Regions from separate parts of the Homo sapiens genome. Here regions 1, 2, 4, 5 and 6 are each reported to be linked to region 3. The links are microRNA targets in miRTarBase. Many come from high-throughput screens and were not tested one by one. Region 3 holds a microRNA gene; each other region holds the end of a gene's coding sequence.

Region 1 (5,000 bases), not on the chromosome of region 3:
ACAATAAAGTGAAATTGGTCGTTTCAAATGTTTCAGTGAAACATACATTTCTCTCTGTCCTTCTCACACACACAAAGACACATGCACACACACACACACACACATGCACACCCCACGTACATCAGGACACCATAAGACAATGTCCCGCAATAATTACCTAAAAATATTTAAAATACAGACTCTTTAATTTTCTAAACATTATGCAGCTGAGTAGGGCATTCTAAAGAACAGACTTCAAATTGTTCTTACTGTTTTGAGACCAGGAAACATTGCCAAGAATTCACCAGATGCTGTTCTTAATTGCTGTTGTTACAATTGTTATTATTGCTATAAATCAAAATGTATATTTAAGAGTTAATGTTTCATCATCATCGGAACTTAGGTTTTTAAATCAGAGTAGGCCATTTATAACATTTGCTATCTCTGAAGAAAAATACAAAAGAATATTGTTCGTTTGAAGAACTGTTAAGACTTTTACCCTACTGAAGAGCTGTTGTTGGAATAAATAATCAGAGGTTGAAGGTTGTTTTTTAAAGAGCAGGAAAAGAAAACAGAAGAAAGATACTACATTCAGGCCGGGCACGGTGGCTCACGCCTGTAATCCCAGCACTTTGGGAGGCCGAGGTGGGAGGATCACCTAAGGTCAGGAGTTCGAGACCAGCCTGACCAACAGGGAAAAACCTTGTCTCTACTAAAAATAGAAAATTAGCCATGCTTGGTGGCACATGCCTGTAAACTCAGCTCCTCAGGAGGCTGAGGCAGGAGAATCGCTTGAACCCGGGAGGTGGAGGTTGCAATGAGCCGAGATCTTGCCATTGCACTATAGCCTGGGCAACAAGAAGAACAAAACTCTGTCTCAAAAAAAAAAAAAAAAAGAAAGAAAGAAAAGAAAGATACCACATTCAAAGCAAATGGGCATCTTATAGGGAATGATACAGAAAACTGAAGAAGGCATAATTTTACCCAAATGAATCGCAGATGGTTCTTCAATATTGGATCAATTTTTGTAGAAAGAGAAGTTACTTGGAAAATGGGAACAAAATGTCCCAATGAGAAGAGAAGGTTGACTGTGGAATAAATTAATTTTACCAGTATATATACACTTAATTATGAACAAGAGAATCAGAACAAGGTTCCTGCTATTAGAGTCAATTGGTTTATCAAATTAGAGTTTGAATAATGTTCTTAAATTTTGGCATAGATTAGAATCACGCAGGAAGGCTGGTTAAAAATGTAGATTCCTGGGCACTACAACTATTATGTTTCAGTAAAGGTCTGGTGTAGGGCCTAGGGGTATGGATTTTAGCCAGCTTCCTAGTAAATTCCAAAGCCTGTCGTCTCTGTAAAATCAAAGCATGCTGAAAGGCAATATGGTTAAACGTCCATGACACCATCGTTTCATAATGAGATTAGGAATAAGTCTATGCCATTTCCTTATTATACAGAGATAGCCTCCTTACAAATATCATCTGGAACCTTTATCTTCTGCTTTCCTGAGGTCATTTTCAAGAACATCTTCCATTTATTTCTCAACCAACCAGATTTTCATAGTTGCTTACTCCGTAAAGGAAAAATGCATATGTGTATGTGTGTGTGCATGTGTGTAAATGTGAACAGAAGGGCTGAGTGCGCATAACATTATAGAAAATTCTCTTTTCCAACAGATCTAACCAAAGACACATTTTTGGCTCTGATATAATTAGAGCTAAGGTCGGGGCGGTGATGTAGAGGGTAATGGTTGATGATATAATTATCAAGACTCAATAATCAAATAATTTTAATCATGAATTAAAATCATGAATTAAAATCATGAACTTATTAGCCTAGCATTTGAGAGCTTTTTCTTAAAAAAATTAAAAATCTCATTATTCACAATCACCCTCCTAATTAACCTTATTCTATATGACATATACTCTAATATTATTGGCCCTGTGGAGCTTGGGCACCTTCTAATGCACTGTGGAAGCATTCTACTTGGATTATACCTGTATATCAACAGTTGTTCTCATACCTGTATATTCAACATGGACTCTCTAACAGAAACAGGTCCTTTTGTTTTGTACATTGCAGTGTAATAAATTGCCCCTGTACTCTTGAATCTTGATGAAAAGAGACTAACTTCCTCCCTGCCTTCCATGCTGGGTAGGTAAGTAGTTTCCCACAATGAATTAGACCCAATATCCTCCATGAAAGTAATAATAGTGGACATTCCTGCTCATGAAGACACATGTCTAGGGGCTTAAAACTTGAAGTGTAGATGTGAAGGTGTGTGTAAACATCACAGACAGATCCAGAAAGAAAGGAAGATGTTTATTGCTTTCCATACCTTGTGGAAGGACTAGATATCTCGCTGTCTTTTTGACCTCCTGTTTCCTTTATAGAACGCAAGGCATTTATGCATTTTGGACAATTCATTTAAATGCACATATTCAAGATAAGAACAGTATGTCTCCCTTTCTTTGCATATTTATGACACATTTTATTTGCACAAATAATACTGCATCAGTTTCATTGAGAAAAGTTGGAATTTTGTTATCAAAATCATTGGATGGGAAACTGCATTTTCAGAACCCACTTCTTTTCCTCTTTCACTAACGGTATTCCTTACAACTTGTAAACATTCATGAAGAACTCTATCATTGTGATCCATTTTTAAACCAATGCACCCACTTGGAGTTATAATTTCCCCATAAAAACTTTCCATGCTGATCACTTTTTTTCCTTTAATACGCTTTGAGCATCAGGGCACACTGCTCCATCCATCGCAGGCGCTGCGGGTGGAGTTTCTATCTCAGTGCACAGCATGAAAGCTTGGGTCCATCTGTGCCACACAAAACCAAGCCTCTCTTGAAGTGATTTGTTTACAGTGTCATTTGATGGAGTGGAATGTTCTGCAACTCATTCGAACTGTTACAGAAGCTTTGCTAAAAGGTCACCACTGCTCTCTAGAATTTCCAAATCTGGGCACCCTCTGGGAGCTTGTTAAAGATAAGGTTCTCCATGGGCTTTTTCCATACAAACTAGATCAGATTAACAAGAGGCTACTTTTCCATAGAGGTTTGTGTTCATGTTGAGAAGGAGAGCAAGAAAGAGAGAACACAAGTAAATTACAGTTAGTTACCTCAAAGTGTGCAAGCCCACTTTCTCCCAATTCAGAGGGCATGTAACAAGTGATAGTACAATTTAATAGGCCTAAACAAGTGTGTTGGTCTTGAAAAAGTCAGAATTTGCTTTTAAATGTCCTTCTTGAATCAATGCATTCTTCAAATATAGTCTTGGGAGTCGATTCTAAAGGACACTGAATTTCACCATTTACTCAAAATTCAATAGGAAAATGACAACTAATTCCTTAAGGTAATAGAGGCTGTGCAGGGTAAGCATTCACCGTGCACTGCACCAACAAGGTTCAAATTGTTGTAACTACCATTTTAGTCTAGACCTAAAAGTGTCTTGTGCTTGCTTTCTGCCCCTTTTCTTATGAAACAAACATCTTGAATTTTCCAAACCTCAAAAGCTCAGCTGTAAAACTGTAGGAGACCAGCAAGAGGAAAAGGAAAATTTCCTTCAAAGACGTCTCTAGTCGCAGTTGATCAGTTCTGCTTTCCCCCTCGAAACATTAACTATGTCTTTTGACACTTGTCTGTGAAAAACGTCCAAATGTGACAAATGGTAGAAACAACATTTCTTTACCCTCCTGCCTGGAACTTCCCATGATACAGATGAGATCTAGCTGATGCTTTTATGAGTGGAACAAGGAAGGTGGCTACTGTCCACCACACTCACTTACATCTGCAGATGGAATAAGTAAACACATAGTGAACTTACTGAATAAAAATTTTAAATTCTCTCATTTGCATTTGGTTGGAATCCCTGAAAGGGTCTGCACAGTAGCAGCTAAAACACAGGCTTATTGCCATTAAAAATATTCTCAGAAGTGTGTGTGTGTGTGTGTGTGTATTTCTAGTAGAATACTTGGAAGAAGAGAGACTTAAATCTGGAATCATGTTTTTGTCTCTGCAGTCCAAGCTGGAGACATTAAAAACAACAACGTCTCCCTCAGTTCAATCAAGCTGGTCTGGGAACCAAAATTGTCCTGAGGAAGGGGGAGAAATCCATTTATATTCCTTGTGAGGCAAGGAGGGAGGTCTTTCTCGCAAAGTCTTTATGTGTCATTCAGGACCAGGAAACTTAATCTTCGAGTTCAAAGCTCGTCTCATCATAGAGCTCAGGACGTGCTGACTTCTTGTGCCGGGAATATTTCAGTTGCAAGAGATCACCCATTTCATCAAGAGCTTCTAAAACCTGCAATGAGATTGCTTTCCAATAGCTATCATTGAACACCTAAGTAGCCCTGCTTTGCAGAGCCCAGATTAATAGCAAGCCTCACAAAGACACACAGTCTTAGTTTGCTAGCTTCTTTGATTTTAAAGAAAAGAAGCAAGATCCGTACCATTAGGTTGTGGTTTAAGACCCTAGAGGAATGTTAGATGCTAATTAATTTTATTTAGTGGTCTAACTCCATACTATGAATGTTTATTTTATTTTGAGAGTGTGAAGAGAAGAATAAAAACATGTGACCCATGCTTACCCTTAAAAGGTTTTATTTTAAAATGTAGTGACTTATATGTAGTCTTGTGGAAGAAAAAGATAAGGTTGCAGAATGCATTTGAAGTTATATCTTCATGACACAGCAAATCACCTGGCCAAGAACAAAGAGGAATGTTGCGGGAGCTGATTAACATCATCCTCTGTCCTCTCATGCTACCCCAGGCCTCCTGCTTTTAAATACTCATCTCTGTGTCCCAGAAAATACTAGAACTTAACTCACAGGGACTGAGAACTTGTCTGTTTCAACTCTCTTACTTTAGGTGGGTACATGTATCCCCCATTTTGCACATGAAACAAATGAGATCCAGGAAGTAAAAAAAGGTCATTTTCTGAGAACACATGGACACAGGAAGGGGAACATCACACACCAGGGACTGTTGTGGGATGGGGGG
Region 2 (5,613 bases), not on the chromosome of region 3:
AAGGTCCTGCATTTACAGTGAGAAATTAATCAGGAAGAATAAATAGATGACTTTCTGCTATCTCCAAATGGCTATATTGTAGTCTGAGCCACTATGGAACCATCATCAGTCATAACCTTTGTAGAACAATGAGACCAAACTTAAAAAAAAGTCTGAGTAATTTTCTCAGAGTTATTTTTCATGCATCAGAAATGTATCAATTTCATTATTTGCAAAGATTATTCATAATTTGTATTGTATTACTCTTCATTTTAAATGCTTGTTAATATTTTGATTCTATGTCTGGCTTATTCTCTAGTGTTAAATCCAATTTCAAAGACATTATTTAATGATTTTCGTTTGAAATTACAGGAACTAGAAATTCAGGCTCGTACTCATGGTCTGCCAACCCTGGCTTCACTTGGCACGGTTGATTTAGGTGCTCATGTCACCAAACAGCAGAGCCATCCTGAGCAGAATTCAGTAGACTATTGCCAACAACTGACTGTGTCTCAGGGGCCAAGCCCTGAGCTCTGTGATCAAGCTATAGCCTTTTCTGATCCTTTGTCATACTTCACAGATTTATCATTTAGTGCTGCATTGAAAGAGGAACAAAGATTGGATGGCATGCTATTGGATGACACAATCTCTCCATTTGGAACAGATCCTCTGCTATCTGCCACTTCCCCTGCAGTTTCCAAAGAAAGCAGTAGGAGAAGTAGCTTTAGCTCAGATGATGGTGATGAATTATAAGAAATAAACAGACCCAATTCATCAACTGGAAAGCAATTCTATGCTGGTGCTATGCAATTATGCTCTGTGTTTCATATGTTGCTTTGGCTTATTTTTTTTCTTAAAGGAATGTGTTGTTCATGAAAAACTGATAGAAGCAACAGAAGAATTCGCAGGAAGAAAAATCATAGTGTTAATGAATTATTGAGGGCGAAAAAAAGGTGTTTTCTTCTTTGACTACGGAGTCCAAATCCACTTAAATTCTGTTTTCCTGAAAAGAGGTACAGCATAAGAAATAGCTCTTTATTGATGTTTTAAAAGCAGCAACTTGGTGGTGTACTACTGGAACTAATGACTGCAAAGTGTTAAACGACTGAAATATACAAACAGTCTCTTAGTTACTCATTTCCATCTTCTCTTCAACTTTCACATCAGTCTTCCGGAATCAAGATCAACATATCAGGTGGTCATTGCCTTTCTCCATTGTCTAGTAGACATGTCTAAAGTTCAAACTTTATAGGATAAATAAATGTATAATAGATTATCTGTCACTTGTGGTTGAAAGGCAAATCTACAATAAATGTGAGAATTTTCCACAATAAAATATGGATAACTTATAAAAACATTGGTTACTAAAATTAGATCCTCATTTTATTGTAGTTGGTTCAATTACACTAATTCTAAAAGCATCCATGCATATTTATATCTCCAGTCTCTGTTCAGGAAAAGGAACATATTGAATATTTTCCTCAGGAATATGGACCAGAATTGTATCCCTTCACACAAACATACACATACACATATGCACATCATTCAGGTAGTATATGTTCTTTTGTTTTCTTCATGCTTCTGACTGCATCAGAATCACATTCCAAATTCTCTTTTCTTATGAAGAAGAGATGTCAGATCATCAATTTTAGTAAATAAAATATAAAATGTCCCCCTGCAAGGACAGTTTTCAGGTACTTAAAACTTTTCATCAGTATTGGACAGAAATCAATTAGTTGTTGATTTGGTTTTTCTCCAAATGGATAAAATATTGAAAATTGAATTGCCAATTGACAAAATAATTATTACAACAAACTATTTCTTATTATTTTCAGTTCTGAGAGGAACGTAAGGTTCTATTTCTATAAACACTTAGAGTGTCCTATGATCTTTGGTTGCACTGTTAGCATTTATTATAAGCACTTATAACTATGATGCTTCATTTAGATTTTTATCTCTTGCGCTTGTTTTAGGTTAGGAAATTAAGTTACCAAGCACGTTGCTCTGTGCTGGACCTCCAAGAGTGATCATCCGATCAATGAGTATTCATGGAGGCATACTCAGAACTGCAGTGAGTCCTGAGAAAATGTAGAAGAGTTGAAAAAGATATGGTCTTACTCCTAAGGTAGTTAATGAGAATGCATGAAAAACAAAAACAAAAGATAGAAGACATATAGAATAAAAAATCTAAGCATAAACTGTAAATACAGAAGGTCAGAGAAAATGAAAATGACTGACAAACTTTATGGGAACAGCAGAATTTGACTTCTCTTTGAAAGGCATTAATTGAGTGAAAGTGAGGGCATATAAAGGAATAATACCAACCAAATGATAAAAGTGAGAATAATAGGGGAAGTATCTTTATAGGACTTTAATTAGAAAGATCTGGATGCCCTAGAAGATGTCTGTTGGGGAGTTCTGAAGCATAAGACTGACAACAGGTTGTGAAGGCCCTTAGAAAACTATGGTGAAATAATATAGTATTAATATAATAGAAACAAATCTTTTTAGTAGCAGGGAGGATGCTAAAAACTAAAATATATATTACTAATGAGTGAGATGTAATCTTTCATGAATATTAAGCTTTGGGATAAATTTTGAAAGGATCTTTTAGTTGCTTCTCACATGGAAAATATGTCACTATGAAATGTGAGACCCTAATGCTGATAAAAGTAGAAAAATAGTAAATCATTATGGTATAATAATTATCTCAGGCTTAGCTTGTATCATTTGCTCAGAATTTGGAGAATTAAAATAATTTTATTGTTTGACATGGAAAAATAATTACTAACTTCTGGGTACAGTCATTAAAGCCTGATAGATAAATTCATCTGAAATATGCCATGTGAAACAGCTATTAGATACATCTTCTCAATAATTTTCAAGACGATATTACATACTTTTAATTTTATAACAAAATTCCACTTCATTATCTGAGTTGATAATTTGATTAAATGTTAAAAATTATAGATAAGGAATATATTTTGGAGTTCATAGAAAACACACCACTTTATTAGATAGAGACTGGCTTCAGTTCTCATTTTATCTGCTCTTCTCATTTCTTCATATTTTGAGTAGACTTGCACTGATGATGTCATTACTCAGTCATTATTTTCTGTTCTGTTAAGGTACAACTACTGGGCCTTGAAATCTATCCTTCACAATCTTGGCTGAGATAAGGACTTGGCACAGGATGATAGAGCCTGGACACAAGAGATCTGGAGAGGGAACTGCTATTTGCTGCTACATTCAGATTATGAGATGTCAGGGAACTGTAAAAAGGGTAATGAATTTTTAAAGAGAGTAAAGAGTTATGCTGTGTCCCGGTCAACTGAAATACATTAAAAATTAATTAGATGGTAGTTCTTAACTTTTTAAGGCAGATACCTTGAGAATCTAGTGAGTTATAGACCCTCTCCCTAGAAAAGTATAGAACTGTTTATATGGACAATAATTCACATGCATTCAGAGATCTTAGGGATCTCCTGAATGTTTTCTTGGATCCCAAGTGAAAAATTCCTGAATCAGGTCTCTTAGGTGTGCGGTTAATGTCATGTATAACAATGGGGGGACCCTTACTTATCTAAATATAATTATCCCAATCCTAATAATGATGAGGTTGCATAGGAAAGTAATAGTGTACCAAACTTTAGATTATTCACTAAAAAAGTTGTTCATTTATGAAGTAGTCGTTTATCAAACATGTCCTCCCCACTCAGCAAACTATGCCTTCTATTTATTATATATGGGTCAGTTTCACTATAATTACTGAGTGTTATAAACATCTGACCATAACATTTTGAAATGATGCAAATAAATTTCCAAACAAAAATAGTGTGAATTTAAAAGCAAATTATTTGAGTATCTAAGAAACAAGATAGACTTCTAGAAAAATTTGACTCTCTAGAATATTTCTTGCAGAAATGAGATTTTTCATAATAGTAAAAGAGGCATATGTTTATCAAACAATGCTGTCACAAAAAGCATCAACTGTAATGGGACTATTAATGCATAATTATTGATTTATTCATTCAATTAATATACAATTATCCCTTTTCATTTAAAGATTTAATTCATAATTACAATTATAATAAAACTTCCTTTAAAGTAAGATACAATAATTTTATTGTTTTTCATTCTTTTTTCAACAAAATATCCCATCCAATCATTTTTTATATTATTAAATATTGGCTGCTTTTTCTTGGATTCACATTAAACAGCCCTTTCCAACTTCCAATTGTCTTAAAATAATGATGACCTCCTGTGAGTAGATACAGCTCTTTACAATTTTTTTCTTTAGTGCCTTTTCTTCTTGAATTTTTCCTATATCAAATGGAGAATATATGTACAGATGGTATTTTCTCAGTTTATAGGCATATCAGTGACCATGGCTTTCTTTATATAGGTTTTTAAAAAAGCCCTAAATAATAAATAGCCAGATGAGCTGGGGACATTGAGAAATAGCCTTCCTCTTCCTTTTTCAACTCATTTTTTTCCCACCTACATGACTGTAAATCAAATATTTAATAGCTCTTACTTAAAAAAACAGATACAAAGAATGTCTTGATTTGGTGTGCTCATTTACCATAATGTCATGAGGGGAATTAGATTTCACAACTTTAAAAGGAATATATTTTTATTTTATTTTGAAAAACTGAGTCATATAGGAATTTTCTTATACTTCAAGGCATCATGGAAACACTTTTTTCCTGTTTGGATATTGTGGAATTTAAACGTTCAAATAAATAAATGGCATAACTAAGTGTTCCAAATTTTTTTACAATGTCTTTGACCCTATTCAAACACTTTAGGTATTTACTGACCGTCTGATGTGTAAGATGTGGAATAAAACTGGAATCAATTAATTATTTCACTGTGTTATCAGCGCAAGATCAACCATCTGGGTTTCTTAAAGACACCCGAAGGATTGAATTTTGTTTCAGTATTGATAATGGCATAGTCTCTATGTGCTACATGGAATTACATCATTTATCCCTCCAGTGCCCTATATGTTGATAAGTATGTCAGTTTGACTTAGTATACATATATACAGAGATTTCATTACATTTACCTAATAAATACAAAATACATTTCGAGTGTTACTGATCTCCTATGTTACATGAGCCTCCTGTAATCATTGTGCATTGATGTTCCAATGTTTTATTGTTTGTATGAATTTTAATTTGAAAACAAGGAAACAATCCAAAAGCAGAAAAAATAGCTTTTCTTAAAATTTTCAGTGCTACATTTTCCCTCTGAGGTCCATAGAGATTTGAATGTATAGGAGATTATCCGAAAACAGCTATTTTGATTAAAAAATATATCTCCCAGGATTCAACCAACTTAATGATGAAGTACTATTGTCTACTGCTTTATACATAAAAGGGAACTTTTTATCTGCTTGTAAAGGGATTTTTATGTGTATTTCTGCATAATCAGATGACTTCTATTGTGTTTTCTACTGATGAAATTCTCTGTAAAATGTCTTTTTCTTACATTATCCAACAGGCATAAAGAATAACAGTAAAGACTTTTGTGTTTGTAATACTACCTCTTTTATCCCTGCACTACTGTTTTATTGCAAAAATTCTATATTGTCACTGTATTTTTTCCATAGAATATAAATTTTGTTCT
Region 3 (5,613 bases):
AGGAAGAATATTTCTGAAATACATAAGATGTCTCTTAGTATTACTATGCCTTGTGATTAAGGTCAGTAGAAAACTACAACAACCCAATCCTGGCAGGACTACTAATGGCCCAGACCCTTCAGAAATGAAAGTTTGGGTCACTCTACCAGGTAAAATATAATGGCTGAGGTGCTTGCTGAAGGCAAAGGGAATACAAAATGGGTAGTGAAGAAAAGTAGTTGTAAATACCAGCTAACACCAGATGACAGTTACAGAAATGAGAATTGTAGTTCCCATGAGTATTTTCTACTTATATTTTTATTAATATACTTCTGTGTTTTCTTGTCTCTCTTATCCCCTTATCATGTAACGTAAGGTGTACTGATATTATATCATAGTTATTAACCGTTGTTAACTTTAAATAATCATAGTATTGATGTTATGGAACACCAAGGAGAAGAGTAAACAAACAACACTCCAGGACTTTATCTCCTCTTCTGGTGAAGTGGTTCATGAATTCTGGGTTGTATAAATGGTAGTTGTATCTTATTAAATGAAATTATGACCTTGGTATTTTTCTCATTTGATGATTAAATATAATTTAAGGAGATGCGTATAAGTGACAACATGACAAGGAGTGAACTTGTGATGATTAATTCTATATTTCAACCTGACTGGGTCATGGAGTGCCCAGACATTTGGTCAGTCATTATTCTGGGTGTTTCTGTGAAGGTCTTTTTGGATGACATTAGCATTTAAATCAGTAGAATGAGTAAAGCAGACCACCCTCCCTAATGTGGATGGATGGGCCTGCACCAATCAGATGAAGGTTTAAATGGAACAAAAAGGCTGACTCTCCCCTAAGTTAGAGAGAATTCCTCCTGCCTGACTGCCTCCAAACTGGGGCATCTCATTTTTTTCTGGCATTGTACTCAAATTAAAACATTAGCTCTTCCTGGGTCTCAAACCTGCTGGCCTTTGGACTGGAACTACAAAATGGTTTGTTCTACTGCTTCTTTGGCCTCTGGACTTGGACTGCAACTATACCATCAGTTCTCCTGGGTCCCCAGCTTGCTGACCCATCCCCCTGCAGATCTAGGAACTCACCAGCCTCCATAGTTGCCTGAGGTTATTCCTTGCAGTATCCTTATAATAAATATCTTAAGGGATTTATTTTAAAAATAGACTTCTATAATAATTATATACATATATATTTGCTCAATCATTGTCCTGGGTGTTTCTTTGAAGGTCTTATAAGACCTGATCCAGAATCTGAGGGTGCCTGGGGTACCTGTGAAAAGTATGTCCTGTAGGTTTTTTAAGCATTTATTCCTTTTTCTCCACAAAAGGACTACAAAACACTGGGAACAAGATTTGAGGTAGGAACATGATCCTTTTTCTGCATCCTTTTCCTTTTTCTGTGAATGTCATATGTATGTGTGTGTGTGTGTGTGTGTGTGTGTATATATATATATATATATATATATATATATATATATAAAGGGATATATAAACCCCTTTGTATATGTAAAGTTTCCAGAAGTATATGTACACACATGTTCATACATATATGTTCTCATCACTTCATCCGTTCCCATAATAGTTAAGACCAGCTAAAAACATATAAATAGTTCAAATGAAAGCAAATTTGGGGTATCATATCAAACTCCACTGATATGAGATTATCATCACGGATACACAGGAATATTAAAGGGAATTTGAGTGTATCTAAGCCTTGAGGAGATCACTTCATAAGAAAGATGGTTCATGGAGTTTGGAGTTCAGCAGGGAAGGGCAGGAGGATATTTGTGCTCCCTAAAAAGAAGGCTTAAATATTGTGAGGAAAGAAGATCAGTGTAAACTTCTCAGGGGTTTATAAGGCAAGAAGTGTATTTGGGTTGTTATAGAGAGAAAAGACTAAGAGGTACAAGAGAAAAAGAAGTATCATGTTCCTACCTCAAATCTTGTTTCCAGTGTAGTCAGTCATTTTGTGGAGAAAAAGCAATAAATAATTGAAAAACCTACATGAGAGACTTTTCCCAGGCACCCTCAGATTCTGGAGCAGATCTCTCAAGAGGTACTTCAGAGAGTACCTGGAAATGGCTCATCACTAAAGGTTGGGTACCAAGGCTCAAGGGAGGGCAGTATTGTCACTGAAATTCCACTCGTCATTACCAATGCCACCACAAATGTTGTCCATGTTGCACATTACTCTACTCAGAAGGGTGCCTTACAAATATTAATCTATTAAGTAACACCTTCCTGAATAAGGCACTACACATAGTATGGCTGATGGTGGTGGCACTGACCATCTTAATAGTAACACGGGGAAACTACAGATGAGGCTATTCCCAGAGAACCTCATCCTCTAGGTTTTACCCCACAGAATTCTCTTTAAAGGGTTGTATGAGTTGACCCATCACTGAGTGGGTAGTTCTGACTTGTATCTGTTGTGCATTATTTCACTCCAAAAGGTGCAAAACATATTTCTAGACACATGCATGGCACTTCTTGAAGTGAAGCACTACACACAGCACAGCGGAAAATGTCCCTCACTCCGCCATTTCAGTCAGAATCCCAACACTCTCAGTCCACTAGGAATAAGCAGAATATAGTCAATAGATTAAAAAAAAAACAAACCCTTTTTCCTCTCCCTTTTGTCTCCTATGTCTTTCACTGAATGCTTATTAATTACTTCACCTGCTGCACATTTAATGAGACAGATTTTAGGAGAGAGAAAATTTTCCCTCTTCCTCCCAGACTTAGCATACTTCACTAAATTGTTCTGCTAATTTTCAATTTAATATAGTTGGCACATGAACAACTACTTCATATGCCTCAAAAGCCAGTCATTACATAGAAAGGACCACTCAAGTGACTCATCATATCTAGCGATTGCAGGCCAGATAGAGCTCAGTTGAAGCAGTGCTGGAGAGTTCTCTTCTTTCCAATTTGAATCTTCTTTATATCATTGGGGCCTTGGTTTGGCATCCTCTGTTCAGAGATGAAGGCCTACAGCAGCAGAAGCAGTAGTCACCACAGTCATGCACTTGCAAACCAGTGTTTAGACCAAGAAATATCTGCAACACATGTGAACACATGCATGCCACACATGCAAATAAACATGTGAACAATGAAACAAACAACCCCAAAACGAATGCTCACAAAATAGGGCAATGCAAACACAAAGACAAACACTGCATGATCTGACTCATACGCAGAGTCTAAGAAAGTTGATCTCATAGGAGTAGAGAGTAGAATGATGGTTACCAGAGTCTGGGGAAGGGAAGGGAAAGGGGGGTTGGGGAAAAATTGGTTTATGGGTACAGAGTCACAGTTAGGAGGGCTAAAAGTTCTGATGTGTTATTGTGCAGAAGAGTGATTGATTATAGTTAGTTAACAATATTTTATGGTATATTCCAAAATCACTAGAAGAGAGGGTTTTGAATGTTCTTCCCACAAAGAAGTGATGGACGTTTGAGGTAATGAAAATACTAAATCCCTGATTTGATTATTACACAATGCATGTATGTATCAAAACATCTCACTATATCTCATCAATATTTACAAATTATTATGTGTCAACTAAAAAAACAATAAAGGAGTAACAATTTTTTTTTTGAGACAGAGTTTTGCTTTTGTTGCCCAGGCTGGAGGGCAATGGCACAATCTCAGCTCACTGCAACCTCCGCCTCCTGGGTTCAAGCGATTCTCCTGCCTCAGCCTCCCACGTAGCTGGGATTACAGGCATGTGCCACCAGACCCAGCTAATTTTCTGTATTTTCTGTAGAAGCAGGGTTTCACCGTGTTGACCAGGCTGGTCTTGAACTCCTGGCCTCAGGAGATCCACTGGCCTCGGCCTCCCAAAGTGCTGGGATTACAGGCATGAGCCACCGTGCCCAGCCGGGAGTAACAATTTTTAAGAATGTAAAAATACTACTGAAAATTCTAATTAACACACATTTAAAAACACCATTCAAAATCGGAATAAAAAAAAACACACAAAATATACAAAACACATCCAAATATACAAAATTCTACAGGAAACAAAAACCCTAAAAAAGCAAACAAGCAATACAATAACAAAAATCAAAAAGAACATACACAATACAAAAACCCCCAAAACATAAAAACAAATACACTAAAATGTAACTTTACTTTCCAATAATCCCAAACAAAACAGAGAACGAAGTTCAAAGGAAATCTAGCACGTATCAGGGATAGACGACACTGCACTGAGAAATGCTGCGAGTGTAGGAAGGAGAGCAGTGGACACTGAGAAGTAAACAGATGAGGTATCATAATAAACAATGATAGAAAACAAAGTAGAACAGTTTCCCACCTCTTCACTACAGCCTGTATTTCCTCATGACTTTGGGTGAAGTGAGGTATTTGGCCACTGCAAAAACAAAATCCACACACATCATCAGTTGCCAACTAGACACCAAGAAAGACATGATTTGAAAGAGCTTTCCTGGGAGATAATGTAGCAGCAGACTATCAAATTCTATCCCATCCTCTGATATGGACATGTAACATTTACACCTTGCTTCCCAGGTCGTGCTTCCTGTGGGCTCCAGGAATTGGTTCTCCCTCCCCCTCTACTTTCTCCTCCCCCTCCCTCCCCTTCTCCTTCTCTCTCCCTCTTCCACCCTCTCCCTTCTCCCCTTTCTCCTCTTCCCCTCCCCTCTCTTTCTCCTTCTCTCCTTCTGCCTCTCCATACAGATATTTTTATATCAAGGTTCATAGCTACGTCTTTTCTAGTAGTCAAAGCCAAAATAGCTATAAACTGGAGACAAATGGCCATTAACAGGTGAATGCATTTAAAAAAAACTGGAATATCCATACAGTGGAATACTACTCATCCATAAAAACAAATAAATTATTGATGCAAATAACAATGTGGACGAATTTCAAAATAATTATGCCAGGAGAAATAAGCTAGGCCAAAATAAACAGTATATACAGTATGATTCCATTTTAATAAAAAATTTTGGCCAGGCACCGTGGTTCATGCCTGTAATTCCAGCGCTTTGGGAGGCTGAGGTGGGAGGTTCAGTTGAGGTCAGGAGTTTGAGACCAGCCTGGCCAACATGGTGAAATCTCGTCTCTACTAAGAATACAAAAATTAGCTCAGCATGGTGGTGTGCGCCTGTAGTCCCAGGTACTCGGGAGGCTGAGGTAGGAGAATTGCTTGAACCTGGGATGCAGAATTTACAGTGAGCCGAAATCACGCCACTACACTCCAGCCTGAGTGACAGAGAGAGACTCCATCTCAAAAAATAAAAAATAAGAATCTGGAAAATAAAATCTAATCCATAGTGAATAAAAGCAGATTAGTGGCTGCATGGCTCTGTGGTTATGTGCAGAAGACCGAAAATGAGGATCACAAAGAGGCAGGAGGAATCTTTCAGGGAGGATGTATAATATTCCCTATTTATTTTGATTTAGGGGATGATTTCATGGGTGTATAAACAGAATATGTCAAAGCGCAAACTTTATGTCAGTCATGTATCAACGACGCTTTTTAAGAACTAAAGCTATCACAATACAAAAATCTCAAAATAACAAACACATGCTCATACACACAATTCAAAAAAACCATATAAGCTAAAAAAAAAAAATCAATCAACA
Region 4 (5,613 bases), not on the chromosome of region 3:
GCTGGAGAAACTGAGGCTCAGATGGGCCTAGTCAGGAAAAAGGTATATCAAGATCCACTTGAGGCCCAAAGTCAGGATTGTTTCCATTGCATCTGTACCCTCCCTTAGGCTTCTTTTTCCTCCTCTTGTTTCCTGAGGCAGCTGGCAATAGATACTCTGTCCATCCATCCAGTCCTTGCTTACTCAGTTCTTGACATGCGCCTGCTTCTGAGCTAGGCTCAGAGGACGCAGTTACAGTCCCTGACCTCATGATACTCAGTCTCGCTGGGGATGTAGACAGACAGTGAATATGTGAGTAAGTGAATGAATGAATGCCAAAAATTTCATTTTATATTTACATGAGGTGTCTTCCAGCCTGGATACATTGGCAGCCCTTGTCTTCTCTGAGTTCTAAAATTTGTGTTTCTAAGCCCATTTCCAAACTTTTTTAGCCATTTTAATTTCAGTATATAAAGTATCTGGGACCTCGTTTCCACCATCTGCACATTTATTGAACATGCTCAATGCTCCATCATTGTCTCATAACAACTGCCTGTACAAGAAAAGCCACCAACTCCAGTATGTGACTTTGCTGATGGTTTATTACCTTAAGGAAAAGACTTACACAGAGAAATTGAGCAATGAAAACCCTTCACATTGAGCAAACACATTCCACGCTACACAAATCATGAGAAAAATGAGAACTGTTGTGAAACATGACAGATTGCCCAAGTGTTATTTTTCCTCTATTGGAAAATTCTAAGACGTTTCCTCATGTGTAGTTTTTCAGTCACAAAAATGGCAGTAGGAATATTTAAATATTAAATCACAGTTTGAAAATAGATACATACATACATATATATACACACACAGGGATACATAGTTGACTTATGATTCCCAGATATGCAGGGTTATCATTGTGACTGCTTTGGATCAAGACAAGTTTGTAAAAAGCAGCGACATAGTTCAACATAATAGTCAGGAGCTAGATTACTTCCCTGTAATTGCTATGCACACACAGTACAAGGCTAGCGAGATTATAGACAATCATGTCATTCGAATCTACTATCTTTGATAATTCTGAATCATTTTCAAAGTTAAAATTGCAGCTATTGTCAGTAAAGCGCCTCTTATAAAGGTCATGCCTTTTGATTTGGGGGACAGAATAACTAGGCGTAGCACAAGAAGAGATGGCTCAGGTATCAGACTATCCTGGGTTTCCAGTCTTGGTCTGCTGTTCACTAGCTGGTAAGACCTTGAGTACACGACTAAACTTCTGTGAGACTCAGATGATAATGCCATATTCTATAGGTTTGCTGTGAGGATTAAATGAGATATGGCAGGAAAGCACCTTCCACAAGGCTTGGTGTATGCTAAGCGCTCAAAAAATGCTTATGATAAGGTTTAGCAAGATTTAACTTGGTGAATTCAGGTCTCCTTCCCTTTTGCACACCTAAGCACACCTGAGTAATTCACTCTAAGTATGAATGTAAATTTCCTCAGCAAAGGTTAACTAACCCTTAGGGTAGCTTTCCTTTGTCTCAGAACATATAGTTAACAAGGGACCACAGAGGTGATGATCTATTTGGTCTGTTTGAAGCCCCTTGTAGATGTAATTCTCCAATAGGTGTCATTCAGGTCTTTTCCAGAGGCCTCCGCAAGAGCAGGGGCTGGTAGAATAAGCTGCTGTTTGAGCTCTAACTTTTTGGGGGCACTTCTCTTTTCCACTTATAAAATAGTGAAAGATGCATACTCAAAATTGCTGTAACAATTAAATAAAATAATGAACAACTTAGCATAGTGCTTGGCACCAAGTAAACACTCAATCAGTGGAGATTTTTTTCCATTATATTTATTATTCTTAATTTTTATTGAATCAGGCCACACCATTGCAGGGAAATTCTGACTTAGAAAGCGCTTCATTACATTGGATCCAAATTTCCTTCTCCATGGCTTCAACCCATGGGTCTGAGACTTGCCCTCCGGGCTCTGCATAAGATAGTTCCGTTTCTCAAAACCAATGGCGACTGGGTTATTCTGACCACCTTCCTGCACCCATTGCCAGAATAATCCCTAGTTTCTCCAACCAGACTTCCTATGATCTTTGAAAGCTAAGTTCAGTTTCCCAAATTGAGATGCAAATTCAGTAAGAACCTAGCTCTTGGGTTTCCACTGAATTTCAAATGGAGTGAGCTGTTATCCAGCCTTGTAATTTGTAGATGGCAGGTGTTTTCACTCTCAGAAAATCTAACATGATTCACACTGACTTACAGAAGAGATCATTCATGGAGTGAATTCTCTTTATACAAGAATTCTTGCATACGCATACACAAATATATGTATACATACATATGCATTTCTTTGAAATATTAAATGTCTCTTTTGCTAAGGCACTTAATATAAAATTTTGACTGTTAAAATTCTATTTTCATGTAGCTTTGGAAGAAGAGAGCTTCGAATAAAAGTAGGAACACATGCACAGCTTCCTGTATTCATCAAGTATTTAATGAGCACCACTGTATACCTTGCACTGGACTAGGTTTTGGGGAGGTCACAGTAAGGAGGATGTATTCCCAGTCCTTTTCCCGTTTAGGAATCTCTCTGCACACTGCACAGAATTCCCTGTGAATAACTACACAACATTCAATATGCAGCATTGGGTAAACAGAATCATCTTTTAAATGTGTGATGAGAGCTGGTTCCGATGGGAAAGAGGGAATAAGCTACAGGGGATTCCTGGATTTTTGTGTGTCCCATGTATTTTGGATGCTTAAGCACCTAAATTATCAGAAAATCAGATATTCTCGTCTTTTGAAAAGGAGCTAGAAAGACTATAAGAGGGAAAAATGACATTAAAAAATCAAGCCATTTATTGCAATGTTTTCCTATTCTGACACATTTGGAAGCTCTAAAAACAGGGGGAAAATATGGGTTATAAAGACAGTCCAATTTCGATCTGAATCCTAACTTTCCCAGTCACCAACTGGGTGACTCTGGTTGAGTTTTCTCACCTCTATGAGCTTCCGTTTCACATTTGTAAGAACAGAAATAATAATGGGAACTTCTCAACATTGTCGTGAAGATTCAGTGAGCTAATACATGCAAAGCACTGAGAGCAATGTCTGGCACAGAAAAGGCCCTAAATAAAAGAATTCTAACAGTAAATATTATATTTTCCTAATACAATAAATAATAGCCTGATATTCATTAACAACAACCTTTTCCTTTTAGCTTCAACCTCTTCAGCTTTAAACCTTTATTAAGTCTATTTCTGTTTCTAAACAACCGGTAAACCTCCATCTTCCTACCAGAAAACTGGCCATTTGGTCAGCAGAACGAAAGGCTGTGAAATGAGTCTCTGCAATAGATGTGTCCTGAACACGGGGGCCCCTGGAGTCCCACAGCCTCCAGCTCTAGAGGTCACCCCAGGCTGCTACCAAGGGCACCCACTTCTTGGTTTGACCCACACCCCTACCTGAACCTGTCTTGGTCATTTCAGTGGGTCTGGCATGGTCTGCAGCTGGGTCTCTCAAGGCTCTGTAAGAGTAGAGGAGTGTTCCAGGGCACCACTCTCAGGGGCCAGACAGGCCAGTCCAGAGGCCTTACCAATTCCTATGAACCCCAAGCAGGACAAGGGAGAAGATTCAAGGAAGAGCCTGGCCAACTGCCCAAAGCCCTGCCAGTCAGCAGCTGATTCAGTGTGAGAGTCAATTGGTCCTTCTGAAACGGGCTGACCTTTCCCTGTCTCTGGAGTATTAACTGGGGGCTTTTCCCATCAACAGGAATGTTTATCAAATTTTATTTCTGACTGGGACAAACCTAATCTGTACCCTTCACAGTGTAGGGGTGAAGAGAAACTTAACCTCAACAATGCCCAGGTTAATGGATACAACTTTCCATTAAAAATCAAAATTAAGCAACTATTCAACTCACTTGGCAAATGTTTGATGACCTTGAGGTGCATACATATTTGGAATCAGGATAGTTTTGGTGCGCTGACGTCAGAATTACCCATTACAGTACCTCTTGGCAGGCTCCAAATAATAGATTATTCTATTGTTCCAAATTCCATCTATTCATCTGAATGGACCCAAAGAGTCTTGTGGTTTGGCATCTAAAGAAGAAATTAGTGATATTAAAAGTCTACCTGATTCCATTTCTTGGGATTTAGGCAAGATCCAGCAGGACTTCTAGTGACTTGGAAAGGCTGGATCAGGCTTGGGTGTAGTCCAGAACAGCTAGAGACAGGCATTTTTCTTTAGAGTAGATGCTGAATGATATCAAGGAGAAAACTCATAGCATGGGCCTGAGCAGCACCATCAGGCGTCATTTGAATGGTTAGAGACAGAAATGGAGGCCAAGGGTCCAGATCAGGGTAACTAAGGCTCATTGGTGAAAAGTTATTGGCCATAAGGGCTGACTGCTTCACAGGCATTGGGTTAGTCCCCAAGACCCAAGATTTGTGCCTGCCTAGTTGGCAATTTCTGAGAAGTCAGGGTAGGATTCCAAGTCAGCAAAGATGTCATTGGGATTCCTACAGCTCAGGTTACAGAAGCAGGCATTAATCCATAGGACCTGGCGGGAGAAGCCAAGCCCATCAGGACACTGGAAGGACACGTCGATAGTCTTAGACTTGTAGGGGATGCAGCACCTATTGTCCATGCAAACTCCACAGTACTTGGGTTGATAGGAGCGTGTGCTGATGCAGCCCGCAAGTGTGAAGTTCATGGATGCCTCTGGCTGGTACACAGCCAGACACTTCTTCCCTGCCTGAAGGAAAGGAAAGGAGCTTTCAGTGGGAGTGCTCAGAGAATGGACAACCACCTTCTTCCCCTGAGCCCCCAGTTTTTCCCTTCTCACTATGTGGGAGCATTCCACCTTACTTTCAGCTTCACAGCATCCTCAAGCAAGGAGGGACAACAGCAAACACAGTGAGATCCAGCATACCGCACAGGGGTAAATGGAGGACCACAGAGAAAAATGTTTTGTTTGGGTTGTATCTCACAGCCTGCAGTTTCTCTTTTGTCCTGCATTTTTGTCTTGCCTATGGCCAGTCATTCATCATGGTTTCACCAACATGGGGAGCCTATGTAGCTCCTTCATCCAAGCAAGTTCCCCTGGCTAGCTAGTGGCAGAACTGGCATCGGGACTCCACACTCAGGGGACACGCTTTGCCCTAACCGCCCCTCCTGCCTTTGCCTCTCGTGGCCTTTCACACATACCTTTAGTATTCAACGTATTCAAATGGTTGACATTAAAGGTAACGCTACCTTCCACTGGGCTATGGGCCACTTGAGATTTACTGTTCTTTCTGTGTTTCTGTGGTATAATTCCATGCCTAGTACAGAGTAGGCACTTACTAAACCCATTGGATTGAGGGTTCTCAGGGTCTACTGTGTAAATAGTATGCTAGATCTAGGCTGTATGGCGGCATGAAGCTTGCCCAATTTGGGAAACCCTCTGAGGGCACATAATTCTGGAAAAAAATTGGTTGGAAATCAAAATTGGCTTGGACTTGCATTACGTGGTCCAGTAATGGTAGAGCCATCTCACTCAGCTAACGACCTTTGCTGTCATTCCTCTGCAGCTGGTACCTTTTCCATGTACGTTTTCAGTTAAGAGATGTCTATGGAA
Region 5 (5,613 bases), not on the chromosome of region 3:
CAAGTTTTGTTGTGCTGATTTAACAGCCTGTGAATTCTGCAAACACGATCGTGAAAAAATGCCAATCTGTCCTGTGTAAGCCCTGTGTGAAGTTTTGACTTTAATCTACCAGATCACTCCTTCACCCTCCATAAAGATGTCTGAACCTGACACTTCCTCAGGATTTTCGGGAAGTGTGGAGAATGGAACTTTTCTTGAGCTGTTTCCCACATCCCTGTCCACGTCAGTGGACCCATCCTCAGGCCACCTGTCAAACGTCTACATCTATGTGTCCATATTCCTCAGCCTTTTAGCGTTTCTGCTTCTGCTTTTAATCATTGCCCTCCAGAGGCTCAAAAATATCATCTCCTCCAGTTCCTCCTACCCAGAGTATCCAAGCGACGCTGGAAGTTCTTTCACCAATTTGGAAGTCTGCAGCATTTCCTCTCAGAGGTCCACTTTTTCAAACCTTTCATCCTGAGGAAAATGGAAGAGTCCTTGAGTGTGGCAGCAGTTTTGACATCCCCTTACGGAAGTGTCCCGTGAGGCATTGCCTCATGAAAGAAATGATCCTTTTGGTGTAGACCTGCTTCTCCTTCTCCTTTTTCTCTGATTTCTTTTCTGTTCATGATGCTTTTCATTTGGGGATGGAGACACCGATGTTGGTGGAAATGTGTGCAAACCCCAAGGTGCAGAATTTCACACAAATGGCTTGATGAATCTAGACTGGGCTTCTTCAGGTAAGTCAGTTCATTCTACTTTGTTGGACGCCGTAGGCTCATCTGAGGTGGCCTCTCCGTGGATGCTGGACATGGACTCGCACTTCATTTCTTTTACAAAGCCGTGAAATCAACTGAGCCTGCAGAAACTGGCAAAATCAAGTCTGACCTATGTAGAAGTTATTTTCCATATTTAAAAGATAAAGTGGAGACACCAAACTTAAAAAGGAAGAGAGTCAATTTAGATTTAATGTATGACATTTCTAAAACTGAGGGTAAATATATGCTAAATATTTTCTTTAACTTCACTTTAACAAGTAAAAATCACACTTATTGATGAATGTAAGTCATTTGGGAAAGTTTTGGAAGAGTTTACATTTTAATAGCAAGACAAACATGTATTATGATGGAGCTTGTGATGTATTTCTGCCTCCTGGAGTTTTATTTTGTTTTTCTGCTTATGTTTTAGTCATAATGCCACAAAGTTGTGGAATTTTTGTGATTAATTGCTGTTACTAGTACTAAGAGAAGCACCAGAAGAGATGCCAAGAAGTTTTTATATGAATAATTTCTATCAGTGAGAATTAAGCATATGGAAAATATTCATTTAGTTGTATTTTATACAGTAATAACTCTTAGCTGTCGTGTAAGTTCCTTTATTCGGTTTCATAGTCTTTATAATTTTAGTGCAGAATTATATTAAGCCTCCAAGATGTCTGATATTTGTTCACTCACATTAGGTTGTAAAACTTAGAAACTAAATTGCAAATATATGTGTTATTATATACTCCACGAATGTTGCGTCTCTGATAATTAGTTGTTGTATGTTAACATAATACTCTACATTAGGATTTCAGGATGTGAGTTTGTATTAAAAATTGTAGGCACTCAAGTTGTGTAGCTGCTGGGAGCTTTAGGGATCCTAGGAGCTGCCGTGCTGCAGGCAGCAGAGTATGTCTGAACTCGGCGGGCGGGTGGCAGGGGCTGTCTGTGAAATTAGGCACACATGTGAGCTCAGACATGGAATGTGGAGGAACTCAAGCTGCCCCTAAAAACAAAACAATCAAACTGCAGCTCCTTAAGAGTAAGAATTTTAATTTAATTTTGAAAATAAATGGCCCACAGGGTAAACACTGAACTTATTCAACCTACAGGAGGCCACTGCATCAACACGCCACGGTCTTCCCATGGCAACTGAATCATTCCTTGTTCAAAACATTTAATCATCTTAAGCAGTGGGGCTTCAACACACCGTTTGGTTAGATTGTGCAGTCAGCACTCTCCAGTGATTAGAATGGGGGAAAGAATCCACTATTTGTACAGGGTTTATCTTTATCATACTAAAATGCTGAGTGAGTGGAGGTCTGGGAATGAAAATCAGAAGTCTTCTTCTTCTTTTAATTCATAAGCCTCACTTAAATCAGAACACATTTAACTATTTATATATCAAAAACGTCCCCAAACACCATAAGACCAGCACAGAGTTGCTGCCCTAAAATGTATAATTAGTGAAAAATTTACCTCTGCTTCCATTTAAAGCATGGCAGTGGGTTGGGTGTCATTATGTAGTATAAAAACTGGACTAGATAAACTGCTATTTTAGAGCATTATTAGCATTCTCTGAATATATGTATATATACATATATATACGCACACACACACACACACATAAATATATATATATATATATATATATAAACTCACATACTCCCAATTAAAAGTCGTGTGAAAGCTACACAGGATTACAGAGGCATCTATATTATCACTTTTGCTCTTTGACTAATCCTATGCTGTTTTTGTTATAGAGAGAAACAAGGACATGGATGAAGTGATTTTTTTTTAAATAAAAGGACAAATTTGCCACACAACAGAACAATCTGAGTATGATCTGTCCTCAGGGTATCTTTATATCCTTTCCATGTGAAAGAGATATAAAGAATTCTGACAGCAAAACTACTTTAAAAATCAAATCAAATCAAATCCACAAGCACACTCCCATTCCTCCCCTGCCGCAATGGTTCTTGCTCTCAATGTTTAGTAGAGAAATTAAGAGCCACATTCAAAGATGGAAAATAAGATTTGTCATTAGAAGCTTGCCAAGGTAACAGATTGTACAACTTGAGATGAATTCATGTTGTTTAAGAAGTTCAGAAAGGTTGGAAGATGGGTTTATAAATAAAGAAGTGGAGTCCATTGAAAGCCTGGTTCTTTGATTCTTTTCCAGTGAGGTGATTTATAATCTCTTCTAGAGAAGAAGCTTTTCCTAAGAGTTTTAAGCATACACCACACACACACAGAGACGTATAGACATATATTTACATATAAATATATCACTCCTTTTCTGTACGTTCTGTCTGAAGCAGGGTCAGTAATGTGTGACCCAAATGTCAGCCTCTCCCCAGCCCTGCAAGGATCACCTCCTTCTGCGACAGTGAGTCCCACATTTCCCAGATGAGAAGAACGATCTGGGTGCTTCGACAATATAGAGGATCCCACGCCACACCCCAGACCTTCAGGAGTGGAGCCAGAGTATTTCTGGATATTTTTAACAAGGACTTCAGGTGATGCTGATGATCAGCGGGGAAACTGGCAGAGGAAGGATCACATATATTGTGCTTACGTATTTGCAGAGGACAGGGGTCTTACCTCTCGGCCACTGCCCTTGTAACTGCAGTTGCTCCCAGCTGAGCATCCCCTGCACAGCTCAAAATCCCCACTGGGACCTACTTTCCTGCTCCAGTCTGAATCCAGCCACCCTTCTCCTCAATGGAAAGCTGCTGCTGCTGCTGCTATTGTAATAAACTTGGTGGAAGAGGGAAGTGCAAAAAGTCACATGTCTTTCTTGTCCTGTCTCTTAATTCCCCACAAGATGATATGCATATAACAGACTAGGTTAGAGGACTGGGGGTAGCTGACAGGATTTATAAGATGAGAGAAAATATTTTACATTGAGTACTAAGTAAGACTATTCCCACAGTCCAAAGGAAAACAACAGCATAACTAGGAAAACATTATCTAGGAGAAGCACCAGTTTCTATCCTTGCTCCCCTGTCTTGAAGTCAGCCTCCCACCCGTCTGAGAGAGGCTGCCACTTCAATCTAATGCCAGGTCCCACTCTCCGACTCTCTGTTAGAAAGTCCCCTGGGATACGTTCCTATCAGTCCAACACCCTGGACCTAAGACTTCAGAGAGTCTGAGTTATTCAAGAGAGAATACTCCCAGGCTGTGTGAGGATGGGTGTGGTATGGATGGAGTCCTGGAGGGAGGTCTGTAGCAGAGGAGTTCACGGTAGGCTCTGGATCTCCCAGGACCAGCTCTCTGCAGTATCTCTCCATCAGTGAGAGGACAACTGTGCTTCTCTTGCTTCCTGGTTATCCAGCCAGCCCAAGCATGCATTTGTGTGCATGAACACACATACACACACACACATTAACTCAGACATACGCTCTCCTTCACCCACACATACACCATCCAAGAACAAACCATCATCCCCAGTGTTCGAAGACAGCACCTCAGTTTTCAAAGTCCACTTACTTCAATTTCCCCCTGCCTTCAGTGATGAGCTGAGCACAGTAACTCCCTCTCACTCAACCTTCTCATTCAAAACCATGCCTAAACATCTACCACTTAGTAAGAAACATTTCCTACTAATACTGCTTTTCATAGCAACAGTGCTCACTAGCCCCTGTAGTCACTTCTGACTATGCAGAGACCTCATCAAACCATTGCAAGTATAGCTTTTCTTTATGTTGGATTGGGTCCACTCTGGGTTAGGGTGTTTGCCACCCTGGACACTGTAATAAGACATTATTATCAATGGGAATTTATTAAATAAATGAATAGAAGTGGTGTTTGGTTTTCTGTTCCTGTGTTAGTTTACTGAGGATAATGGCTTCCAGCTCCATCCATGTCCCGGCAAAGGACACGATCTCATTCCTTTTTATAGCTGCATAGTATTCCATGGTGTATACGTACCACATTTTCTTTATACAGTCTATTATTGATGGGCATTTGGGTTGATTCCTTACCTATCTAACAAACCTGCACATCCTGCACGTGTACCTCAGAATTTAAAATAAGAATTAAAATAATAAAATAAAATAAATGAATACATCCTTTGGCACTAGATAAAACAGACAGATATAGTTCCTGCCCTCACGGAGCTTATAATCTAGTAAGGAAGATATAAAAACAAATGAACAAACAATATGTATAATTGCAATTGCCATTAGCACTGTGAAGAGAATAAAACTGTGAAATAATAAGCAACAAGGGAAACTCACCAGGCATAGGTGGTCAGGGAGGGCCTTCCTGATGAGATCATAGTATTTGAAGGGTGTTGAGAGTCTTCTCCACAAAGGGATAGCGTCTACAAAGGCCCTGTGGCAGAGAAAGGCTAGGCTTGTGAACAGAAAAGTCAGAGTACTGGGATCCAGAGCATGAGTCTAGAGAGGTGGGCAGGACAGACTATGTAGGAACTGGTAGGTTAAAGTAGTAACTTGGATTTTATTCGGAGGGTGACAAGAATCCATTGAAGGATTTTAAACAGGTAAGTTATATAATTGAATTTTTGTTTCAGAAAGATGACTGTAGATGCTTTGTAGAAAATAAACCAGAGATGGACAAAAAGTCCTATTCAGATCCACCCTGGGTGGGGTATGGGAGTGGGTGGTGAGTTGTTCTCCCAGCTACAAATATCTGCTCATCTTCTAGCCATGGAAACGGCCTGAGCTGAGAATGAGTGTTGCCACACACACCCCTCCCTCCTCCTCCCGTTTCAACCACGCTCTCACCTCCCTCTCTCCCTCTCCTGGTCTCTCTGTCTCTGTCTGTCTGTCTCTCTTTCTCTCTCTCTCATACACACACGCACGCACACACACACACACACACACCTTCTCAGATTCTTCTCTCCTCA
Region 6 (5,613 bases), not on the chromosome of region 3:
AATATGCACTAATAACTGTAACTATGCAAAATGTTTTTCTAGATTGGGTTAATAGGCTTATGGTCACGAAAACAAATTTTTATTTTTGTTACAGATGACCAAAAATAAGATGTCCTTTAAAATATTTCACTAGGGTAAAATTCTGAAGGAAGCAGAGTAGAGAAAAAAAACGTTAAATTTGTAAAGATTTAAAATTTCCAGGGGCAGGCATAGTGGTTCACACCTGTAATCCCAGCACTTTGGGAGGCCGAGGTGGGCGGATCACTTGAGGTCAGGAGTTTGAGACCTGCCTAACATGGTGAAATTCCGTCTCTACTAAAAACACAAAAAATTAGCCAGGTGTGGTGGCAGCCGCCTGTAGTCCCAGCTACTCAGGAGGCTGAGGCAGGAGAATCGCTTGAACCTGGGAAGTGGAGGTTGCAGTGAGCCGAGAACACGCCACTGCACTCCAGCCTGGGCGACAGAGCAAGACTTCTGTCTCAAACAAAAATAAATAAAATAAAATAAAAAAGAAATAAAAAAGAAATTTCCAACTAAGAGCTTTGTTCATGTACCTTTAAAAATGAATGAAGGTGGGTTCCATTCGATATTTTTATGGTCATTTTTATATTAAAATTCACATGCTAGCAGGTACTCTTGATTTAAACATTAAAAATGTATTTGTCAAACTTAAAATGTGTGAAGGGATGTATACGTTTTCCCAAATTATTTTCAGGGATACACAGGCAAAAGAATGAGCAGCAGGGCTGTGACAACCCCGTCTCCCTCCCCGTTGGTGCAGTGGCACCACCAGCAGCAGCTGGGACTCCATGGCATTCACTCTGCCATTGCTCTGGGTTCCATCTTACTTTCCTACTTTTTTTTCTTTTTGTTTTTTGTGAGACAGGGTGTTGCTGTTACTCAGGATGGAGTGCAGTGGTGCAATCATGGCTTACCACAAGCCTCAACCTCCTAGGCTCAAGCAATCCTTCCGCCTCAGCCTCTTAAGTAGTTGGGACTACAGGTGCGCACCACCACGCGGGCTAATTTTTGTATCTTTGGTAGAAACAGGGTTTCAACATGTTGGCCAGGCTTGTCTCCAACTTCTGATCTCAAGCGATCCACCCGCCTTGGCTTCCCAAAGCGCTGGGATTACAGGTGTGAGCCACCACGTCCAGCCCCTACTCTGATTTTCCCTCTTATTTTTCTTATTTAATGTTGCTATACCTTGATAAGCTTTTTTTTTTTGAGATGGAGTCTCGCTCTGTTGCCCAGGTTGGAGTGCAGTGGCACGATCTCAGCTTACTGCAAGCTCCACCTCCCGGGTTCATGCCATTCTTCTGCCTCAGCCTCCTGAGTAGCTGCGACTACAGGCACCCATTACCAAGCCCAGCTGATTTTTTGCATTTTTAGTAGAGATGGGGTTTCACCGTGTTACCCAGGATGGTCTCGATCTCTTGACCTCGTGATCTCCCTGCCTCGGCCTCCCAAAGTGCTGGGATTACAGGTGTGAGCCACCGTGCCCGGCCGATAAGCACTTTTCTTTTTTTTTTTTTTTTTTGAGACAGAGTCTCGCTCTGTCCCCCAGGCTGGAGTGCAGTGGCATGATCTCGGCTCACTGCAGCCTCTGTCTCCCAGGTTCAAGCGATTCTCCTGCCTCATTCTCCTGAGTAGCTGGGACTACAGGCATGCGCCACCACGCCCAGCTAATTTTTTTTGTAGTTTTTAGTAGAGACAGGGTTTCACCATCTTGGCCAGGATGGTCTCGATCTCCAGACCTTGTGATCCACCCGCCTTGGCCTCCCAAAGTGCTGGGATTACAGGCATGAGCCACTGCACCCAGTCCTGATAAGCACTTTTCTAACTCCCTTGATTTCTTTGCAGGACAATATAGAGCATATTATTAAAATATTTCAGGTTTCAATAACAAAGCTACCAGACAGCATCCTTTCCATTTCAGAACGAGAAACCTGGGGCTCAGAAGGGTACCTTCCAGAGTCCCACCAGGAGAGCCATGCTCTTCCCCTCACTCTTCCTCAGAGGAGCATGCGGTCATCTCCAACCACTCGTACAAACCATCACCTCCAATTTTTCATTTTCCCTATTTTAGAATTATTCCGTTTCCCCCCTTATTTCAACCTGTCACTAATTTTCCAATATAGTCTGGCCACAGTTTACCAACACAACAGGATGCTTATGTACATGTTTGTATTTTTAAGTAAGGCTGCCCTCTGACAAGGAAGCCTTTTCTTTTCTTTTTGAGATGGAGTCTCGCTCTGTCTCCCAGGCTGGACAGCAGTGGTGTGATCTTGGCTCACTGCAACCTCCGCCTCCAGCTTCAAGTGATTCTCCTACCTCAGCCTCCTGAGTAGCTGGGATTACAGGCGTGTGCCACCACACCCAGCTAATTTTTGTATTTTTAGTAGGGGTTTCGTCATGTTGGCCAGGCTGGTCTTAAAACTCCTGATCTCAGGTGATCCGGCCCGCCTCGGCCTCCTAAAGTGTTGGGATTACAGGTGTGAGCCACTACGCCAGCCCCTTTTCTTCTTTTTTTACTGCTGTGATTTACTTTTTCCACATTCAACATCCCCTAGTCTTTTCTGGTGACTTCCAAGTGACATAGGAACCCCCTAAGGGGCACAGTCTATGTGCTCAACAACAGTATGCTGGTCAAAAAAGGTTAAATGCTGTTGCAATTTTAAACTTTCCACCGTTCGTCAATCAGAATTAAGTGACATATAATGTTTGCTTCCCGCAACACCCTTCTTTTTATGGTGAAGATAACTTAAGCATATTCATTAAAAAGGCTAAAGTCACACGTTCACACATTAAAAGTCACTTTGAGACATTCAATGATCTGATGGTGGACTTACGTTTTCTCCTTTAAAAGGAAGGGGTTGTCTGCTGTTGTGATTTTAACTGATACATCTCACTCTAGTCAAGGTGTTTAGCAGGAACTGTTAACAATGAAACTGAGAAAAACACAAACATGAACAAATGACCTTTTATTTCATACAGAGATACAAAGGCAACTATGTGCAGCAACAATCTGACGGGCAGTCCAAACTCTTGGGAGGAAGTAAATTCATGGTAAATGTCATGATGGCTGGTCGAGGAGAAGGTCAAAGGAGGAGAGAGAGGAGACAGAGAATGCTACAGCTAATAAATAACAGTAATGAGAACTGTGTGGTTTCAACGCCATGAGTTTGTTGGGGCATCCTCTGTGCTACTAAAGCCACAATTCTATATCATCATCATCAACATTCTTGAAGCGCATTTTACACTATTCTGCATTAGCAATTGTGTTGAGGGAACTATAAACCTTAAAATTACTGACACATTTTATTAAAGGAGCTGTAAACTCTGCTCATTATTGCCTGTCTTGGATGTGGCCTTTGGGATTCATAGCCTCTTTTAAGGAAACAGGGTTGACACACTTTGGTTGGTCCCAGTTTTTGAGGCAATGCTAGTTGTAATAGCATCATCTTTTAATCTGAGGAAAATGTTTCTTTAAAAAACCTGTCTTCCAAAATACAACAAAAAACAAGGTCTGGGTAGTGGCGAATCCTTCCATGGCACTCCATGCCTCCCTGTGGGCTGTAACCATGCACCTGAGTAAAGAGTCTCATAAAAATACTTCTCCAATGCATTTATAATAGGGACACACTACATAGTTTGTTATTCATTAAAGCAGTTTATTGGCTTAATGTACATCAGTGAATTTTTAAATGCTAAAAATTTATGATAAAAGAATACTGAATCAAAACATCAAAGAAAGAAAATAGAGGCTCAGCAGCATGATTTCAATATATTTTCCTGGAAAAAGTTTTTTTTTTTTTTAAAGTGTATGACTTTTTATCCAAGAACAAAAGCTTTCTAAATGCAATGTTTAGACTTGATTTTTTTTTTAAACTAAGCCCAGAAAACTGGGGCTCATAAAATAAAGGCACAATGTGGGCAGCAAGAGAAAAAAGGAGAAAAAATGGGGAAAAAATTGGTTTTAATCTCACGTGTAACATAGGTTGGCTGGTTTTGTTTTTGTTTTAGACAATTAAAGGCAGAATTATCTCCCTGAACACTGCAGATAAATCCTAGTGTTTTAGCTATAAGTTTCAAGAGTTCAGATATACAGATAAAGCAATTTAAAAAAAGCTTTTCTTATTCTAAGGCTTTTGATGCATTATATAAATCTTTAAAATTCCTATCACCCACATTTTAAGACATACATCTATACTTTAATAAGGCACTCTTAAGATATAAAACAGTTTTAAAAACAATGACATTCTACATTAGGGCTAACCCATTCCTCTGCCATAGGGATGGAGTGAATTGTCTCTCTGAATCAAGTCAATCTCTGTGCACCAACAAAAACAGGCAGGTGCCTTGACCCATTCTGAATTTATCTGAGTAGCTGAATTTTAGCAATGGGACTCTCCCATCCACTAGTCGGGGAGTTACACAAACAGAATTGCCCAAGTTTGATAATGAAATTTAAAAACATTATCTCCTTTTTTCTAGAAATGCTTCCTTTGAACATGACTGTCACTTCCATTAGCTCCTGTCCATAAAGAAAAACACAATGGAAGATAACCAATGATTCCCCATATCCTTCAGTTTTCCTGATGGGACAGAAATATAAAGGAACTTTATTTTTAAATGACAACCTAATAACTGTTAATAACATGACATTTTAGTTGTGTGTCTTGTATGTATTTATGTCATTGGTGCTAATAGCTTCCACTTCTAAATGACACACATTTGAATCCTACCATCCCTATTGCTAATTAAACAAACACCAAAGCTTACAATATAGTACTGCAACCTCTAAGACTGTAACAACACAGAGAAATTTTAGTGGAGTTTCCACTCTTTCCTAAGTAATGGAAGAAAATGAAGAAACCAGAAAGGTCAGACTAAGCCTGAAACACAATTTCACTATGAAAAAAGGGTAACAAATGTCCCATCAGAGCGAGAGGAGTTAAAAATGTGGCATCGGGAGTGTATCAGATTGAGGTGCTGTTGTTGGCTAGGTCTTTGCTTCCAATGAGGAAAGAAGGACCTAGAAAGGAGCTGTGAGGTGCTTCTTTCCTTCATCCTTCTGGGCTGGCAGCAAACGATCAATTACTTCCCGTAGAACTTTTTGTTGAGAAGGAAGATCAGGAGGTTGACATTTACTTTAGCTCTATCAAATAATTTCATGACTGCAACTCCTTCATACTGTAGCTGCAGCAGGTCCTATTAACAAAACAAAACAAAACAAAACAAAACATTTTGACAGTTAATCAAGTCTGTGGAACAAGGAAAAAGGACACAATGTAGGGAGGGATCCAGATGGACTGAGGCCTGCCTTGTGTGCCAGATGTGAACTGGGGCGAAAGAAAAGTTCCACGCTAGGCAACTACCCACTGCACAACCAGCCTGAGAGCTGGAGCAATAGGGCACATTGGCCAAGGGAGGCTTCTGGTTGATTTGGAGTTAGGAAGTCATGTTGTTCATATCAAAATTCATCATACATGGAAAGAAAAAGAAACATGTTCAATTGCCACACACATCTAAGCTTTTTATTTCAGAAGTCACAATGACATTTTCCCATTTCATCCATGTTATGGGTCACTAGTTTTAATAAATCTGGAA

Evidence for each region. The annotated mature microRNA hsa-miR-506-5p reads UAUUCAGGAAGGUGUUACUUAA and lies in region 3 at 2,227-2,248, opposite strand. An mRNA with a match to its seed (bases 2 to 7 or 8) in the 3' UTR can be bound and repressed. Matches are read on the target gene's strand: a 7mer-m8 pairs with bases 2 to 8, a 7mer-A1 pairs with bases 2 to 7 and ends in A, and an 8mer does both.
Region 1: the mRNA of SPTLC3 is a reported target of hsa-miR-506-5p. Seed matches in the 3' UTR shown: 7mer-m8 at 4,172-4,178 and 7mer-m8 at 569-575.
Region 2: miRTarBase lists TFEC as a target of hsa-miR-506-5p. Seed matches in the 3' UTR shown: 7mer-m8 at 3,464-3,470 and 7mer-m8 at 3,498-3,504.
Region 4: miRTarBase lists CCN4 as a target of hsa-miR-506-5p. Seed matches in the 3' UTR shown: 7mer-m8 at 1,612-1,618 and 7mer-m8 at 1,406-1,412.
Region 5: miRTarBase lists SERTM1 as a target of hsa-miR-506-5p. Seed matches in the 3' UTR shown: 7mer-A1 at 2,319-2,325.
Region 6: miRTarBase lists IQGAP1 as a target of hsa-miR-506-5p. The part of its 3' UTR that is shown has no 7-base or 8-base seed match.

Annotation. Positions count from the first base shown.
Region 1 is chr20:13,164,056-13,169,055 of GRCh38, reverse strand. SPTLC3 (serine palmitoyltransferase long chain base subunit 3) reads right to left here. Exons shown (of 12, transcript NM_018327.4): 12 at 1-4,302. The coding sequence ends at 4,189. It also overlaps a transcript of TASP1 not described here. Among named protein-coding and RNA genes, the nearest start is that of ISM1, 55 kb to the left of the region's middle.
Region 2 is chr7:115,935,670-115,941,282 of GRCh38, reverse strand. TFEC (transcription factor EC) reads left to right here. Exons shown (of 8, transcript NM_012252.4): 8 at 352-5,613. The coding sequence ends at 732. Among named protein-coding and RNA genes, the nearest start is that of TFEC, 92 kb to the left of the region's middle.
Region 3 is chrX:147,228,562-147,234,174 of GRCh38, forward strand. It overlaps MIR506 (microRNA 506), which reads right to left and starts at 2,282; the gene lies at 2,159-2,282. It overlaps MIR507 (microRNA 507), which reads right to left and starts at 2,516; the gene lies at 2,423-2,516. The region is part of intron 2 of LOC105373347 (periphilin-1); the gene reads left to right.
Region 4 is chr8:133,226,547-133,232,159 of GRCh38, reverse strand. CCN4 (cellular communication network factor 4) reads right to left here. Exons shown (of 5, transcript NM_003882.4): 5 at 470-4,749. The coding sequence ends at 4,450. Among named protein-coding and RNA genes, the nearest start is that of CCN4, 38 kb to the right of the region's middle.
Region 5 is chr13:36,694,943-36,700,555 of GRCh38, forward strand. It overlaps SERTM1 (serine rich and transmembrane domain containing 1), which reads left to right. Exons shown (of 2, transcript NM_203451.3): 2 at 1-2,897. The coding sequence starts at 137. The coding sequence ends at 460. It overlaps LOC102723490 (a long non-coding RNA gene), which reads right to left. Exons shown (of 7, transcript XR_001749825.2): 6 at 4,982-5,078. Among named protein-coding and RNA genes, the nearest start is that of SERTM1, 24 kb to the left of the region's middle.
Region 6 is chr15:90,499,596-90,505,208 of GRCh38, reverse strand. It overlaps IQGAP1 (IQ motif containing GTPase activating protein 1), which reads right to left. Exons shown (of 38, transcript NM_003870.4): 38 at 2,970-5,214. The coding sequence ends at 5,101. Among named protein-coding and RNA genes, the nearest start is that of CRTC3, 28 kb to the left of the region's middle.